Homo sapiens: one gene and its partners. The protein of the gene in region 1 purifies or fractionates together with the protein of each later gene. This does not show direct contact. Each region holds a gene or a part of one and is shown in the gene's direction. Other genes may lie near its edges.

What was found.
Region 2: the proteins of DBT (region 1) and COQ8A purify together in Homo sapiens (co-immunoprecipitation; one large-scale study listed by IntAct). This does not show direct contact.
Region 3: the proteins of DBT (region 1) and LYRM4 purify together in Homo sapiens (co-immunoprecipitation; one large-scale study listed by IntAct). This does not show direct contact.
Region 4: the proteins of DBT (region 1) and NCAPD3 purify together in Homo sapiens (co-immunoprecipitation; one large-scale study listed by IntAct). This does not show direct contact.

What each region holds. Positions count from the first base shown.
Region 1 is NC_000001.11:100,185,200-100,189,579, reverse strand, and holds the end of DBT (lipoamide acyltransferase component of branched-chain alpha-keto acid dehydrogenase complex, mitochondrial isoform 1 precursor), read left to right. Parts: 3' UTR 1-2,661; downstream 2,662-4,380. UniProt on the Homo sapiens protein: The branched-chain alpha-keto dehydrogenase complex catalyzes the overall conversion of alpha-keto acids to acyl-CoA and CO(2).
Region 2 is NC_000001.11:226,964,265-226,968,875, forward strand, and holds part of COQ8A (atypical kinase COQ8A, mitochondrial), read left to right. Parts: intron 1-735; coding exon 736-1,146; intron 1,147-1,406; coding exon 1,407-1,473; intron 1,474-4,611. UniProt on the Homo sapiens protein: Atypical kinase involved in the biosynthesis of coenzyme Q, also named ubiquinone, an essential lipid-soluble electron transporter for aerobic cellular respiration.
Region 3 is NC_000006.12:5,218,369-5,222,979, reverse strand, and holds part of LYRM4 (LYR motif-containing protein 4), read left to right. Parts: intron 1-4,611.
Region 4 is NC_000011.10:134,212,886-134,217,496, reverse strand, and holds part of NCAPD3 (condensin-2 complex subunit D3), read left to right. Parts: intron 1-398; coding exon 399-561; intron 562-4,611.

The sequences.
Region 1 (4,380 bases):
CTCCCACCCAGATGTCTCCTAAATAGTTCTCTGAACCCACCTCTGTCCTGATCTACAGACATTCATTCCAATGCTTTAGCATTTCAAGGTCATCAAATGACTCAGTGACATCTCAGACAGTCAGACAGACCAGGTCAACTATGAACTATTTATGCCAAACCTTACATGGTTCATGTTATCCTTGCTATCCCATCAAAATAACCACAGGCTTTTTTTTTTTTTTTTTTTAATTTTTGAGATGGAGTCTCACTCTGTCACCCCGACTAGAGTGCAGTGGTGCGATCTCGGCTCTGCTCACTGCAACCTCCGTCTCCTGGGTTCAAACAGTGCTCATTCCTCAACTCCCAAGTAGCTGAGATTACAGGCATGCACCATCACGCCTGGCTAATTTTTCTATTTTTAGCAGAGATGGGGTTTCGCCATGTTGGCCAGGCTGGTCTCGAACTCCTGACCTCAAGTGATCTGCCCGCCTCCACCTCACAAAGCTTTGGGATTACAGGCATGAGCCACGGTGCCTGGCCTGCAGCCTCCTTTATTTTACAAAAGGCATTACCACTTAAACACTGAAGATAGCACGAATCTCTGATGTTTGCAAGTTCAGAATAAAATGGAAATGAAAATTCATTATGTGGCAGTCTCAGTACTGAGCACAAAGGCTTTTAACCACAAGCAAATTACTGTGCTAGCCAGACCGTGTGAGAGAACTCCAGGCCAGCTTGCTAAAACTGAGCAGGAGAATTTGGAGAGAGTCCAGAGGAGAGCCACAGAAACAACTGAAGCATGACAAGAATAATTGCAGTTCTGTTATAGAGAGGTCATCTATATCAGGCTTTTATGGAGTACCATGTGGAATGTTACCACGCAGAGCATGGGGAACAGCTGTTGTGACTCAACAAGAGACAGGACAGAAGAAATGAGAACAGGTGGAAGATCAATAATTTAGGTTTGATATGGGGAAAGATGGAACAGTCAAAGGGATTCACACTGATTTTTGGCTGAGCAGAAGGCAGAGTCTCCTCCAACGGGCAATGTAAGTGCCCCCACTCATCTACACCCCGAGAAGAGCCATCAAACTGTATTAAACTTGGAAAAAGCTATTTAACTTCAAGTGTGCTGCGAGAAAACTTCATAATAGTTCCTAAGATGTGCTAAAAAGTAAAGTCCAAAAAGATCATAAAGTCTGTAGAGAAGTTCTAAGAGTGCAGTCAGCTATAAAAACCTAGCAATTTAATTTCTTAGAAAAATGTAGCTGGAGTTCAAACTGTAGTAACAAAGGCAAGTAAATTAAGTTGTGGGCAGGTGTAATTAAGTTAATAGGAATGGCAGGGATGAATATAAATCAGAACAGGACTAACAGTTTGAAACATTAGATATTCAAATGCTCAGAGCTGATGAGCCGAGCCACTACGCTAACAACTCTGCAAACCAAAGGTTTCACAAATTGCACAAGAACCTGGCCTCGATCCCATTGTGTTGCTGGCATAAGATTAGAAGGGCCTGTTGGTTCAATTGTTGCTTTGGACAGAGGAGGACAAACTTGCCACAGTGAAGAAATCATTTTTAAAAACCACCACTGTCCTTTAGTGCACTAATTTCTCTAATAACTAGGTGTATATTAGAAATAATGATATATAAGTGCAGTATACTCCAGTTTCAACAGAATGGTGTCACTTCTGTAAAATGTTGATTTTCAGATTGTCATACTTTCTAAATACAAAAATTTGTCACAGCTTCCACATTTACAAGATATTAAACATTCCATAAAATATTTGTAGAAATATGAAAAACCAATTTTTGTAGTTGCCTTTTGAAATGTATACAAAATATCCCACATGGGCAACATGGTAAAACCTCGTCTCTACAAAAAAAAAAAAAAAAATACAAAAAGTTAGCCAGGCCTGGTGGTGCACGCCTGTGGTCCCAGCTACTCGGGAAGCTGAAGTGAGATCACCTGTGCCCAGGAGGTCGAAGCTGCAGTGAGCTGTGATTGCACCACTGCACTCCAGCCTGGGTGACAGAGTGAGACTTTGTCTCAAATAAACAAAAAGAGACATATACAAAATATATTAGAAAGTTGGGTTAATATCCTACAAACAAAGTATTACATAGTTTGCACAGGATTATGTGTGTAAAAAGTTTTAAATTCAGTATAGCTTTTATTTCTGCAGAACTAAAAGTAGTGCATAAAAATAAAAGTGGGATGAGCATATCTTTTTAATTTGCTATGCAGTAAAAAGTATCTCAGTCAACATATAGGAAACCAGTGCCATTTCTGTATCATTTGACACCGAAGGGGTATTGTTTTTTGTTTTGTTTTGTTTTTCTTTTGAAGAAAGACTTTTATGTCTTTTATTCTATTCTTCCGATTTGGGGTTTAAATTACCCCCAATAAGTTTGCAGAATATTCTGATTACTACTGCTTAGGTGATATATTTCATATGAGAACTATCTTTACACAATGGGAAAAAATATGGTAACCACTTCATTCATCAGAGAAGTTGTGTTTTGTTTACTTGTATTTTGTTTGCTAAATGAAATTGGTTATTTAGACTCATGGCATGCTTTTTCTCAAATGGAGATTTAAAAGTCATTTCCAATGTCCTTCTAACTTCTGGCCAATTCCCAGTAGGCTATAGAATAAACAGTTTTCATATAATAGTCTCTAGTGTCTCCACTGTTGATTGGTTTACAGAAACGACGGTGGTGGTGGTGTTGATGGTGGGGTGTGTGCGTGTGTGTGTGTGTGTGTGTGTGTGTGTGTGTATGAAAAATGACAACTGGCACAAAACAAACCTAAAAATCAGAAGTACATTTTAATTCCTAGTTAAAAACATTAACTTTTTATTCATAAAATACATATTTAATAATAGAAAAAAGAAAAGGGAATAATTAGCACTTAAAATGAACAATTTTTCTTAGCTATTTTAGTAACTTAAATATTTAAGGTATTAAAAGATTGAAACTGTGGGCCGGGGTCATGCCTGTAATCCCAGCACTTTGGGAGACTGAGGTGGGTGGATCACCCGAGGTCAGGAGTTTGAGACCAGCCTGGCCAACATAGTGAAACCCCATCTCTACTAAAAAATACAAAAATTAGCTGGGTGTGGTGGTGGGTGCCTGTAGTCCCAGCTACTTGGGAGGCTGAGGCAGGAGAATTGCTTGAACCTGGGAGGTGAAGGTTGCAGTGAGCCCAGATCACACCACTGCACTCCAGCCTGGGCAACAGAGCAAGACTCTGTCTCAAAAAAAAAGATTGAAACTGTGGGGAAATGTAGCAGAAGTCATATGAGACTGACTGGAATCAGAGTTTAAGGTCCAGGGGAAAGACATTTGGTGTCCACCAACATTCCCCACCTCTCCTTAGAAACAGTCTCTGTTTTGTGAGACCAAGTGGTTCAAGTTAGGATGTAGCCATAACTTTCTAATATAAATCTCAAAATATGGAGAAGAATGACCCATTAACATTTGGCAAGTGTACAGTCTGTTATTTAAGAGTTTTCCTTGCATAGACACACAGACACACACACATCCATCCACCCAACCTTACCTGGAAGATTTCCACATAAAGGAGTATCGGTGTTCACAACAGTGTAGTACTGGCATAAAGACAGACATAAAGACCAATGGAATAGAATAGAGGCCCAGAAATAAACCCTCACATATATGGTCAAATGTTTTTCTGACAAGGGTGCCAAGACAATTCACACTCTTGTGAAAGGGGAAAGAACAGTCTTTTCAGCAAGTGGTGCTGGGAACACTAGAATGAAGAATACAAAAGAATGAAGTTGGACCCTGCTATGGTCTGAATGTTGTGTCCCCCCCATTAATTCATACATTGAAACCTAATCCCCAAGGTGATGGTATTAAGAAGTGGGGCTTTTGGGAGATAATTAGATCATAAGGACATTGCCTTCATAAATGGGATTAGTGTCCTTATAAAAGAGGCCCTGAAGGAGCTTGTTTCACCTGTGAGGATACAGGGAGAAAGTACTACCTATGAGGAATACACCCTTGCCAAACACCAAATCTGCTGGTGCCTTGATCTTGGACTTCCCAGCCTCCAGAACTATGAGCAATAAATTCTGTCATTTAGAAATTGTCCAGTCTCGGCTGGGTGCAGTGGCTTATCCCTGTAATCCCAGCATTTTGGAGGCTGAGGCTGGTGGACTGCTTAAGCTCAGGAGTTTGAGACCAGCCTAGGCAACATAGTGAAACTCCAACTCTATCAAAAATAAAAAATAAAAAATTAGTTGGGCATGGTGGTGCATGCCTGTAGTCCCAGCTACTCAGGAGGCTGAGGTCAGAGGACCACTTGAGCCCAGGAGGTGGAGGTTGTGGTGCGTGATCACACCACTGCACTCCAGCCTGGTGACAGAGTGA
Region 2 (4,611 bases), about 130 Mb from region 1:
ACTGTGACTGTGAGGAGCCCTATTTTCAGATGAGGAAGTAGCAGAGAAGGGTCAGGAGCTCACTCAAGGTCACTCCTGGTTCAGAAGCAGAAAGGACCTGGGCCCGAAGCTCAGGCCTTGGTGACCATCACAAAGAAAACATGGCGTATCCTCTCCCCTGCCCCTCCATTTCCCTGTACCCTGAGCTCTTAGGGACGGCCAGGCCTGGTCCTGGTTGTAACCACCTCTCCAGTGAGGATCTCTTACATGCATACCCCGGCTGGTGGGTGGCATCCATGTCTGCAGTAAGCTGTGGGCTTAGGTGGGCCCGTCGGTGTGCTTCCCTCACCCCTTGCTGGCCTTAGGCTGTGTGTTCACCTCTCAGAGCTTTCCCTGTCTTTTGCGCCCTGGTTTACCATCTCCAAAGCCCTGGAGGCCTTCTTGGCCCTGTTTTATAGGTGAGGAACCCGCTGCGGGCGTAGTGTGCACTTGGCCTGGCCCCGGCTGGGCACACAGTAGGTGCTCAGTGTCCCACCTAGGACCACACAGCAGAGCCCCAACAGAAGCAGGGCTGGAGCCCAGGTCCCGGCTCCCAGGCTGGGAAGGGTGCCGGGCCTCAGGTGCAGCACTGTGCCACCTCTGGAGGTGGGAGGGGGCGGGATGCTGGTGGTGTGCTGTCCTGGGCAGCAGGGGACAGGCAGGGAGGAGCTCCTGGCTCGCTCTTGCTCTCCTAATGCTGGCCTTTGCTCCCTGCAGGGTCAGGATAAACATGAAGAATATTTTGCTGAGAACTTCGGCGGCCCAGAAGGGGAGTTCCACTTCTCAGTCCCGCATGCAGCCGGAGCCTCCACAGACTTCTCTTCAGCCTCCGCTCCCGACCAGTCAGCGCCCCCATCCCTGGGTCATGCCCACAGCGAGGGCCCAGCTCCTGCCTACGTGGCCAGTGGACCCTTTAGAGAAGCCGGGTTCCCCGGCCAGGCCTCCTCCCCTCTGGGCAGGGCCAACGGGAGGCTCTTTGCAAACCCCAGAGACTCATTCTCTGCCATGGGCTTTCAGCGAAGGTTCTTCCACCAGGACCAATCCCCTGTTGGGGGCCTCACAGCCGAGGACATTGAGAAGGCCCGGCAGGCTAAGGCTCGCCCCGAGAACAAGCAGCACAAACAGACGGTGCGTATGGGAGGCCCCTGGAGGGCCGAGGTAGCTGCCACCCACAGCAGTGATGGCCTTGGGCTCTGCTCTAGGGACTTTTCCTGGGTGCTGTGGTCTGGGGTTTTTAGGAGCGTGGTGGCCTTCTCTTGGTGGAGTGTGCTGTCAGGCGGAGCTGCTGACTGTGGGGTGGAGAGGAGATGTGGGGGCAACAGGAGCCTCTGAAGGTTGGTCCTGTCCCCTTGGCTGATTCCACAGGTCTCTTTCTCGTCTCCCTCCAGCTCAGCGAGCATGCCCGGGAGCGGAAGGTGCCTGTGACGAGGATTGGCCGGCTGGCCAACTTCGGAGGTAAGGTGGCTGTGTGCCCCTGGACTGCCTCACCTGCCCTGCCTGGGCACCACGCTGCGGCCTGCATGGAGGTGGGGACCCAGCAATATCCCGGGGAGGGCGTTGGGGGAGCAGGTGGCGGTGGCCGCCCCTGCATGAGCTTTTGGGGAGCTGGAGTTTTTCATGGGAGGATGATTCAGTTACTGGATTCCAGCTCTGCCTGGCTCTCCCCTGCGGGTTGGTACAGGGCCGATGCTGTGCCAGGAGCTGAGTTTGGATTGCCCGGCAGGCCTCGCCTGGAGGCGGTGTCTGCAGCATCTCTGTTTCACCCCTGCCTCAGGTTCACTACCAGTCGGCTGCTTTGGAGGCCTCTCAGGAAGGAGGCTGGGCAGTGAGGAAAAGCTCTTCCCTGGGGCTGTTCAGCAACTCAGCAGGGCTTTCTTTCCCCCTGGGACCAGACATTTAGGGAGCCCATTTGCTGGGTCCCCACAGGCCTGCGGCTCATGAGTGGAGTGACAAGATGCCATGGCCTCCAGCTGCTGCTGTTTAAAGCCGTTTGTCTGTACTTTGGGGGGTTGAGTTGTCATTGTGCCCAGTACACATGCGCTCTTTTTATAGAAGTTGAAGGGTGATTTTATAGTGAAGGTTTATAGCAGTTGTGTCTGCTTTGATGGCATCATGTTTGTCATGCTGCTGCTAATGCGCTGGCCCAGATGTTCCTGTTAAAGTGCCATCTCCTTTGCTGTGGTACACTCTAAGTTAGTTACTGGGATTGCATTTCTTTAACACTCAGCTGTCCTCAGTAGGTTCTCCAGGTGATATAATTAATGGAAGCCACAGTTTTGGTGGCTTGATTTGGACCCTGACCTTGGGTGAGTGGTTAGTTCCAGGGCTGTAGGCAGCAGAGGTCTGAGTGGTCCATGATGGTGCTGGTGCTGGGTGGGGCATGGAGATGCACTCTCATGGGTCTGCCTGTCTCTTTGCTGGTTTATGTTTTTCCTCCCATACACCATCCATCATACATGCTGTTCCTCCGCTCCTGCCTATTCTCTTTTGGAAACCCCATCCTACTTGTTCAAGACTGGTTCTGGGCAGAGGCTCACGTACTGTGCTCCCCGAGAGCCTGGTATTCTGGGAGCTGCGTAATGTGTGTGGGTTCTGACATTGAATGATGGCTGGCCCCCCTCTCCAAGGTGCTGAGCAGACTTGGTTAACTGGATAGAATTTTCTCAGCAGTAAGGTTTTCTTTCATAATTTTTACCTTAATATTTGGCATCCACTGTACTTAGCCATTCAGGAATTTAGTATGAAGTGTCATCTATGTGACAGCCAAGAGTATTTGCTTATTTCCTTTTCCTGGGGTAACATTTCAAGCAGTCCCTCATAGAATATCACACCTCCCTGAGTTCTGCTGTCAGAATGAGTTTGAGAATCACTGCCTTGGTGGCCTCTAGTGGTCCTTATCCCCTGGAAGACTTGGCATGTTACTTGCTTTGCACATTGGCTTGTCATTGGGTAACATGTATTATTTCTTATTAAAATATTGAATGGAGGCTGTCTTCTTTCCCCATGATATTGAGGGCAGGAGCTACCCTGTTTTCACATCGGTACCTTTTCTCTGTCCCCTCCCTCTTCCTTTCACTCTAGACTCTTGGTGAGCCTGTCCCTGGAAGGCTGAGTTTGACGTGTTTCAGGACTGGTGCAGTCCTCACTTCGGAGTCTTTGTGGGGTGGGGAGAAGCGGTAGAGCTAATGCAGGCTGTTAGGGAAAAGTGGTCAGAATGAAAGTCTTGATGGTGAATTAGAATCTGGTGGAGCACCACGAAGTCCTGGCGAAGGAGGCAGTAGTCAGACCCTTTTGGGTGACGGGTTAAGGAAGACAGAGACTGATGTGGAAGGGGTTATATATAGGAAGATGTGTAGGAAGAAAAAGGTAGAGAGCTCTCCTCAGAGGGTGGGGGATTATGGGTAGCCAGAGGGAGCCTGGGTTAGTGGAGTTGAAGCCCTAGTCTTGGGTGCTTTGTAGCATCAGAAGCCTCTGGAGCCTTTGCTGACACCTGCCTGATGTACGGAGCCATCTGTGGGTGTCTGTGTGCTGGAGGATTGCCCACAGCTATGATTCAGAGATGCTCATGTTGTTGCCCAAGCAATTGACAGATGATGTTTCAGGCTTGGAGATGGCAGGATGGGAGCAAAGAGAAGCCAGGTCAGGAAAGAACGTGCCGTTCTGGCCCTAGTGGGGAATTCTGGGCCTTCTGGCTCACCCAGTTGAACCTTTCAAACTGTAGGTTATGACCCTTTAGTAACTGTGAAATTAATTTAATGCATCAGGATCAGCATATAAAAAACAAGTTAACTGTAATCTCAGCACTTTGGGAGGCCGAGGTGGGAGAATCACCTGAGGTCAGGAGTTTGAGACCAGCCTGGCCAACATGGTGAAACCCCAATTCCTACTAAAAAAATACAAAAATTAGCTAGGTGTGGTGGCATGTGACTGTAATCCCAGCTACTCGGGAGGCTGAGGCACAAGAATTGCTTGAGCCCAGGAGGGAGAGGTTGCAGTGAGCTGAGATTGCGCCACTGCACTCCAGTGGGGGCGACAGAGTGAGACTCTGTCTCAAAAAACAAGTTAAACAGAATGGAATTCAATAGAAAAGATTAGAATTAATATCGTACATCCTTACAATGAACTATACACATGGCAAGATATTTTAGTTTCAGAGACATACATACTATTTAAGTATGTTCTTCACTACAATGTGAAATATATAGCTTACTGGTGGGTCATCATCCAAACAGTTTGTAGTTGCACTGTTGCGCTTTGTTCTCCTAGAAAATACCTCTAGCCTTTCTTCCCTTCATGGAGGAAAGGTGTTTTTCAGGTGCAGACTGACAGACTTTAGGAAGTTTTTACACGGGGTTATGAAGGAAAGGGATTGCTCTAGGTCTCAGGGAGGTAGGGCTGCTGCAGGGACCCAGACGGGTTTTCAGCGAGGTTGGCAGTAGGTATTCAGCTATATAGAAGTGGAAGTCAAGGACTTTCCAATTCCAGGGGCTCATTTTGATGCTGAAATGGGGGCGGGGCATGAGTCCTAAGTCCAATTTGGCTATGGGACATTATGACTGTGATGCTATGGGCAGGATGATCTGTGGATATTAG
Region 3 (4,611 bases), on another chromosome or scaffold:
TGCAGTTCAGTTTGTTCACACTTATTATTCATAGGTTATACACCTTTGCCCTATTCTGAAGGTTAATTTTTTTCTTACATATTTCTCACCAACGTATTTAATTTTTCCATGCTTTAGATTTGAATTTCTAGTTTGTCTTGTTTTAATTCAGTGTTATTGCTTCTGTCAGCCATGTACATATTCTCTAGCATTCTAATCTTTCTTTTTTTTTTTTTCTTGTTTTGCTTTTCTTAAAAGTGGGCAAATGTAATATAACTTCTATACTTTTTTTTAATTTACTTTAATAGTCATCTTACTGAGGAATAATTTACATACAATCAAGTGCATCCATTTTAAGGGTACAGTTCAATGATTTGACAAACCTAAGGGCATGTGAAAACACCGCCCCATTCAAGAGAAGGACCACTCCATTACCTCAAACCAGTCCCCTTGGGCCCTTTGTGTTAACTTGGAATGGCTTCTGTTTCTTATTTCATCTCTTTATCTACAGATCTTGTCACCCACCGAACCTGAGACCAGTACCCTAGTTATTCTCCACTGTATTCCCAGCTCCTGGCATAATGCTTATATAGTAGGCATTTAGTATGTATTTCTTGAATAAATTGTAATTTTGAATTTTGTAATCATTGCCTTCTAAAAGTTGTTTGAATCTTTTTGCTGCAAACCCTTTTTTCATTGTTTTGTTTTCATTATTGGTTATTGGTACTTTTCTTGAAGGTCTTTTTGATATTGCCTATGATATTTTGATAAGCTCATTTATTCATTAAACATGTATTGAATATCTTCTCTGTACCAGACACATACAGTGGTGAGCCAGAAAGATTAAAGTTCCTGCTATGTGGGGCTTACATTGTACCAGGAGCTCACATTATCAGAAAGAAACTTTCTGCTCTTCTTCACTCTGTTATATACCCAGAGTCCGTGTGACCTTCAAATGATCCTTGAGCTTCCTCTCCATAGGCATCGTGATCCATTTGATTATACACTACACACATACACACACCATAACCCCAAGGATGTTAAATAACTTCGAGAGAGAAGAGCCTGAACCAAGATTGGGGCTGAGGAGTTGGAGAAGTAGAGGTGATTCAGAAGGGATGTGGAAAGTTACGATTGGAAGATTTGTGATTGGTTGCATATAGGGAGTTCTGGGAAAGGAAAGAATTTAGGATGAGTCTCTAAGTATTTGACTTGGGCAGTTGACTGCATGAAGATTCTCCTACCTGAGGAAGGAAGTATTGGTCATCATGAGCACTTCAGGTTTTTGTTTGTTTGTTTGTTTGTTCTTGAGACATTGTCTTGCCCTGTAGCCCAGGCTGGAGTGCAGTGGCGCGATCTTGGCTCACTGCAACTTCCGCCTCCGGGTTCAAGCAGTTCTCCTGTCTCAGCCTCCCAGGTAGCTGGGATTACAGACATGTGCCACCGCACCCAGCTAATTTTTGTATTTTTAGTAGAGACAGGGTTTCACCATGTTGACCAGGCTGGTCTCAAACTCCTGACCTCGTGATCCGCCCGCCTTGGCCTCCCAGAGTGCTGAGATTACAGGCATGAGCCACCGCACCCAGCCAGGCACTTCGGTTTTGAATGTATTCACTGGAAGAGTCTATATTTTAGTTGACAAGTGCAAAAGGCAATTGGGTATATGGATTTGGACCTCAGAAGGAAGGTCTGGACTAGAGAAATATTGGTAGCCAATGGCATCTATATGGCAGGTGAAACCTTTGACAGATGCAATTACTGGCAGAGATCTTATGAATAAGAAAAATGGTTCACATATGTGCCCTAGAGAATACAGCATGTAAGGGGCAGCAGAATGAGATGAGCCCACAAAGGAGCTTGGGAAGGAGTAGCTAGGCCAGATATAGTGGCTCACACCTGTAATCCCAGCACTTTGAGAGGCCAAGGCAAGAGGATCACTGGAAGTCAGGAGTTTGAGACCAGCCTGGGCAGCATAGTGACACCCTCTCTCTACAAAATGAAAATTAGCAGGTCATGGTGGCATGCTGCTGTATTCCCAGCTACTTGGGAGGGTGAGGCGGAAGGATCGTTTGAGCCCAGGAGTTTGAGGCTACAGAGAGCTATAATAGGGCCATTGCACTTCAGCCTGGGTGACAGTGAAACCCTGTCTCTGAAAAAAGAAACCTAAAACTGGAGGTCTGTGTATTGCAATGAGTGCTCTTTAGACATTAAGACTTGAATATGAAGACTTGACCTCCAGAAATTAACAAGTAACAGTATCATGGAGGCATGCAACACAGTATTGTCAGATGGCATGACCTCAAAGATGCATAAGGGTGAATCAGTGATCTGAAAGCAGCAGCAGGCTCCCGGAATACACCAGCACCCTCCTCTGGGCCCTGTGGAATATGGGGACATGCTAGAATTTAGCAGCTTCCTCTTGCACATTTCAGTTAAGGCAAGTAGGTGGAGGATGTGTCCTTCCAAGTCATTGGAGGTAGATGAGTTTGCCCCACAGAGGCCAGTAGAAAGGATTCAGCTTTTATTGTTCCTAGGATACTTGAGTTCAGGTTACAGAGGACCAAGAAAAGGCACAGATGTGTTTATAGGATAGGTACACAGAGAAACCAGCACTTGAGATGCTGATGAAGATGACAGAAATGAAAGGCATTACATTAGGTGGTTTCCACATCACACATTGGATGCTAAAGCTGATATGAGCCTCCAAGTGCTCAGAGGCTGTGATTATGGCTGCATTTGGTGTTTCTGGGAGGGGACAGAGTAAAGCAGAACCTCAAGCACTGAAGAGCTTTCGTTACTGCCTGCTGTGCAACAGGGAAATTGGAGTTTTGAGTGGAAGAATCTCAGAAAAGAGTATAATCCTTGCAATGGTAAAAAGAACCTGTGGGCACTTGAGATCTAATGACAGAATGAAGAGCAAAGGCTGGGGTGGAGAAGGAAAGCCAAATGGGAGTCTCCTGTGCAAAGAAGCACCAAGAAACTGCCAAGCTTCAGGAGAGTGGAAAGGGCAGTGTGTGTGCGAGCATCATCACCTCACTGTTTCTGTGGCTGTGGGGCTGCTGCTTTGTATTTGGTTGTGTTGCCCTTTCTGCGTTAGTTTTTCATGCCGTATTTCAGACAGCGTCTGACTCATTAGGATCATCCTAATGCACAGCATTGTGTAGCACCTAGCTGCCATTTTCACAGCAACTTCTGCAAATTTTTCTTTGAAATATTCTTGCTCAGTGGTATGGTCAAGAGGCTGATAGCCAGAATCTGCAAAAAAGAAAAGCAAAGAAAAAAGAAAAAAAAAAAAGCAAATGATAAAAACCAGGGCAGGGCCAGGATTGAAATAACTGGTGATTAGCCCCCTCCCACCAAATTTGAAGATTCACTCAGATTTTTGATGACTTTCACAAAGCTGTGATCATTCGAAATAAGAATTCTTACAACTAAGGAAGAAACTCTTCATGCAGTAGTAGTTTTGTGGTTCTGAGCCAGTGAAATATTTTCCCTTAGGGCGAAGAATAACACTGGGTGCTTTAAGTGAGGCAGAAAGAGCAGGAAAGAGAGGAGGGAACCATTACAGCATTCATCTCGAAAGTGCATCGAAAATTTGAATCATGACTCTTGATTGCTTTAGACACATTTAATTCCAAGATCTAGAGCTGCTTTTCTTTAGGTAAGGACTTTGGAGAGCTGGGGAGACAAACAAGTATACATAGCAGAATATCCTGACCCTGGGCCTTGAGCTCAGTTGATATAAATTGTTGAGTGTTTTAAGCTATTTTCTCATTTCCTTAAACTTTGGAAGACCTTAGGTCTTTACATTCCAAACAGTACTCCTTTTTTCCTAGCTATTCTAAGCTAGTTACTAGCTTTTAGAAAAATGAGTTTAGCAATAGCTACTGTTGCCCATTTTGTTTTTCCAAGAAGCCCATGCAGCATACGAAATGAAAAATTTAAACAATAGATGATTCCTGGAGGTAAATTCATGTTATAAACCAATTTTGCCTGTGGAACAAATATTAGAATTAAATTATTTTGTCCCCTCTTTGCTGCCATCATTGCCAAAAAAGAAACTGCTTTGGAGGAGTATGTGGTTGTCAAGAAGAACAGTGATGCTGTGTTTTATAAATAGCCATTAGGCTATGCAAGAAAGTGCCAGAAATTGCTGTTAATTTACCTAGCTGCTATCTAAAATCTTGTTAGATTAGCAGCTGCACCTGAGGAGAGTCTGTATCTGATGTATTCCATTTGTAAAATCCTCCCATATCCCTTTAGAAGTGAATGAGCCCCAGTTATTTAGCAGCTGCTAGTACATGGATTCCATGCCCAATCGCTGTAGCCCTTTAGGATTGATACTGAGCGCTCAGCAGCTCCTCTGAAATACTCCAGCTGGTTCACAGAGGGTTAAGATCAAAGTCTCAGCAGTGTCTTACATTCTAAGTACCGGTTCCTAAACTCTTCCCTTCTCCTTTATGATTCCTAGTATCATAAGATTTAGTTTTACTCTTGCTTTTAAATGCAAATAGACCTGACATTTGAATTTTTTAATGTAAAATGCCTTTTTACTTTAAAAAACTTTATCTGAAACAATTTGTCCTTTTTAAGATAAAGTTTCCCAATAAGTTATATGAGCTCCCAACACCC
Region 4 (4,611 bases), on another chromosome or scaffold:
GTTAGTAATTATTGGTAAAGGAATTTGAGTTCCTTTTAATATAAATAGAGGGATAACTTTCCTGAATAATCACTAATATATGGTGTCCCAAAAGTCTTAGTGTAGTTTTAAGCTATAATTTCTGAAGTATATATGCTACAAACTTAACAAAAAATTCTTTTGAAAGTTTAATTATTTAAATATGTTATATACATATTTATCTTGGTAATTTTGAATAATATACCTTTAATTTTGATATTTTGTTTCAGTCCCTTTGAAGATGGTAAACATTTAGCAGTAGGAGCCAGGCTACTCTATTCCTCTTTTTGTAAGGCACCAAGAACTTACAAAAATCAAATAATAGGAAATGTTTCCATTTCTCTAATGACTGGCTTTTGTGATTTGCGGTCTCCCCACAGAGTATCTGGACCTTCTTCATTGAGAACAATGTTTCCCATAGTACACTGGTGGCATTGTTCTATCATTTTGTTCAAATAGTTCATAAGAAGAATGTCAGTGTACAGTATCGAGAATATGGCCTTCATGCCGCTGGGCTTTACTTTTTGCTACTAGAAGTACCAGGTATGTAGACCTGATATGATAGGATAAATCTTCTGTCATTTTTTTCTTTCTACAGTTTTCAATTCTTATACTTTGTTTCTTGTTTCTTCACTTATAAATGGGGCAGTGCTAACCCATGGCAGAGAGTTGTTGCGAGGAGCAAGTCTCTAAAGTACATGGCATGTTATAGGTCTTGGAAAACCTTCCCCCTTTTTTTTTTCATCCGAAGTTATGCTATCTATAAACTAATAAAAATAGTCTGAGAAGGAGTGCAAGAGTTCCACGCCCACCCTCCACCACGGCCGTCTAAAATTCTGATATTGCCCTTTCTTCTCATGATTCCTTGTCTAGACTGAGAAATACTGCTGTGGGGAGTCATTGCTTTTTACCTCTCCGATGTTGGTATTGAAAAATAGATTAAAACCATTCTAATCAAGAAAGCAGGAAAGCAGCTAGTAATACTTGAAGGAGAGCACTGACCAGGAGTCTGTTTTCGAGCACTGTTTTACTTGATTGTCAGAGCACTGAGGAGGCTGTTCCTCCTATGACAGTGAAATCCATTCTCTTCCCTACTCCAAACACAGGGTGAGAGAGAGTGGAACATAGAGATTGAGTCAGATAACCTGAAGTTCATATGGAAAAGAGAATGGCAAGATCAGTCACCTTGCTGCTTATCTTTGTTTAATTACAAATGTTTAGCAAAGGATTTATTCCATGTGATCTGGGAATGGGCAAAAAGGTCTTATATTTAAAGCCCTGAACATTGATTTGTGTTGTTGTTAATGCTCCCATCATGACTTTGGAAATGAGTAAGTTCCTAAAGGATTTTGTTGCTAAGCAGTGTCTCGGTTGTAACTAGGCCCTCTCTCAAAAAAGTAGTGGTTTTAGAAACCCAGTTTCACTCTCCTCTTGCCAGATGCAGTTTCTTCTGATTAAGGTTGAGATTTATGCCAGAGCAAAGAGGTGGCTGTTACTAATTGCGTGGGCCACTTGCAGCTTTCCAGCAAGCCGTATTCCTGCCAGTTACCTTCTGTTTTTAAATGTTTCGGGTTTATGATTGGGATGCTGTCGATACTTAACATTCGATCACAGTATATTCTTTTTCAGGATCGTTTTGGTTGTTCTGCCTCCCTTGCATTTCCATGTGAATTTTAGGATCTGTACGTGAATTTCTGCAACAATAAAAAAGCCAGCTGCGGTTTTGACAGGGATTGCATTGAAACTGTAGATGAGTTTGTGAAGTATTGCCAATTTAACAACATTAGGTCTTCTAATCCCTAGCCGCAGGATGTCTTTCCATTTATTGTAGATCTTCTTTAATTTGTTTCAATAATGCTCTATAATTTTTGGTGCGCAACTCTTGCATCTCCCCTTTAAAATTTATTCTTAAGTGTTATTTTCAATGCTAGTGTAAATGAAATTGTTTTCTTAATTTTATTTTGGTTTATTAGTACTGTATAGAAGCAAAATTGATTTTGATTATTGATCTTCTATCCTAGAACCTTGCCAAACTCATTTGTTGGTTCCAACAGGGTTTTCTTTGTGTAAGATCATGTCATCTGTGAATAGACACAGGTTTACTTCTTTCTTTCTAGTCTGGGTTCTTTCTATTTATTTTTCTTACCTATTTGCCCTGGCTAGAACCTCCAGTACAGTGTTGAATAGAAGGGGAGCGTGGGGATCCTTGTCTATTCCTGATCTTAAGGGGAAAGCATCCAGTCTTGCCTTTAGGTATGATGTTACCTGTGGGTTTCTCAGGATGGCCCTTATTAAGTTATTATTCCTAGTTTACTGAGTGCTTCATTATGAAAGGCTGTTGGATTTTGTCATTCGCTTTTCTGCACTTGTGAAGTGCTCATGTGGTTTTTGTTTCTTATTCTAATATAGTATATTACATTGGTTGATTTTCACATATTAAACCAATTTTGTATGACCTTGGTCATGGTGTATAATCCTTTTTATATGTTGTCAGAGTGTTTGCTAATATTTTGTTGAAGGTTTTTTGTCTATATTCATAAGGGATATTCTTTTTTTGAGATATTTTTGTCTGGTTTGAGTATCTGGGTATCTTGGTAATACCATTTTCATAGAATAAGTTACATAGTATTCCCTTCTCTTCTGTATTTTGGAAGATTTTGGGTTTTCTTTTTTCTTCAGATGTTTGGTAGAACCCACTAGTGAAGTCATCTGGGCCTGGAGTTTTTTGAAAGAAGTTTATGTTTGTAGAATTTCTAGTGATCTCCTCTCATGCCTGATGTTGGTGATTTGTATTTTGTTTTTTCTTGATCAATCTAGATCGAGATTTATTCATTTTACTGTTCATTTTGGAGGGCCCCCTTTTGATGTCATTAATTAAATTCTGTTGTTTGTCCCTTTCTTGTTTCATTGATTTCTGGTCTTATGTCTACGATTTCCTTTCTTCTTACTTTGGGTTTAATTTGCTCTTATTCTGACTTTTTAAGGTAGATGCTTAGATCTTTGTTCTCACATGCATTTCTTTGTTTCTAATACAAGTATTTAATACTATAAATGTCCCTCCAGGTACAGCTTCATCTGCATCCCACAAATTTCGATGATATGTTTTTACTGTTGTGCAGGCCAAAGTGATTTTCAAATTTTTCTTGTCATTACTTACATCTCTGAGTTGTTTAGTAAATTGAGTTTATTTTCCAAATATTTGAACTTTCCTGAAATCTTACTGTAATTGAGTTTTAATTGGTGGGATCAGAGAACATACTTCATATGATTATGATACTTTTAAATTATTTAGTTGTGCCTTTTTTTTTAATGGACTTAGAGTCTAATTTGGTGAATCTTCCATTTGCACTTTAACAGAATGTGTACCTTGCCTTTGTTGGATCTAGTATTCTGTAAATGTCAGTTAGGTCAAGTTGGTTACAAATGTTATTCAAGACTTACATATGCTTCCTGATGTTCTGTTTATTTGTTCTATCTGTTGTTGAGAGAGGAATGTTGGAATCTCTAAGAATAATTATCAGTTTATCTATTTCTCCTCTCAGTTCTTTTAACTTAAGATATTGTGAAAGTCTGACGGATACAGATGTATTTATGATTGTCATGTCTTCCTGATGGATTGGTCCTTTTAGTATTATGTTATGTCCTTGTTTGTCTGGTTATATTCCTTGTCTTGAAGTCTACTTTGTCTAATACTAAGATAGCCACTATAGTTATCTTAAGATTTGTCCTTGGTTGGTACATCATTTCTCATGCTTTTATTTGTAACCTATCCATATGTTTATATTTAAAGGTTTTCTTGTAGACTGCCTGTCACGTGGTCATGGCTTTTCTTTTTCTTTTTTTTTTTTTTAAGAGAGACGAGGCCACACACGGTGGCTCACACCTGTAGTCCCAGCACTTTGGGAGGCTGAGGCGGGCGGATCACTTGAAGTCAGGCATTTAAGACCAGCCTGGCCAACATGGTGAAACCCCGTCTCTACTAAAAATACAAAAATTAGCCGGATATGGTAACACGTCTGTAATCCCAGTTACTCGGGAGGCTGAGGCAGGAGAATCGCTTGAACCCAGGCAGTAGAGGTTGCAGTGAGTTGAGATCGTGCCACTGCACTCCAGCCTGGGTGACAGTGAGACTCTGTCTCAGAAAAAAAAAAGAGAGGTCCAGGGTCTCAGTCTGTCACCCAGGCTGGAGTGCAGTGGCAATCATAGCTCACTTTAACCTTGAACTCCTGGGCTCCTCAGCCTCCAGAATAGCTGGAACTACAAGTGTGAGTCACCATGACAAGCTAATTATTATTACTTTATTTTATTTTTGTAGAGACAGGGTCTCGCTATGTTGTTGCCCAGGCTGGTCGCAATCTCTTGGCCTCAAGTGATCCTCCTGCTTCAGCCTCCCAAAGGGCTGGGATTGTAAGCATGAGCCCTCACACCCAGCCCATTTGGTCATGCTTCTTTCTGACAATGTTTGCTTTTGTATCAGAATGTTTAAATTGTTTAGCTGATTACATTTAGAGTAATTATCAATGTAGCTGGGTTTCTGCCATTTTTCTATTTATTTTCTATTTCTTTAAACCTGTTTTTTGCTCAATTTTTTCC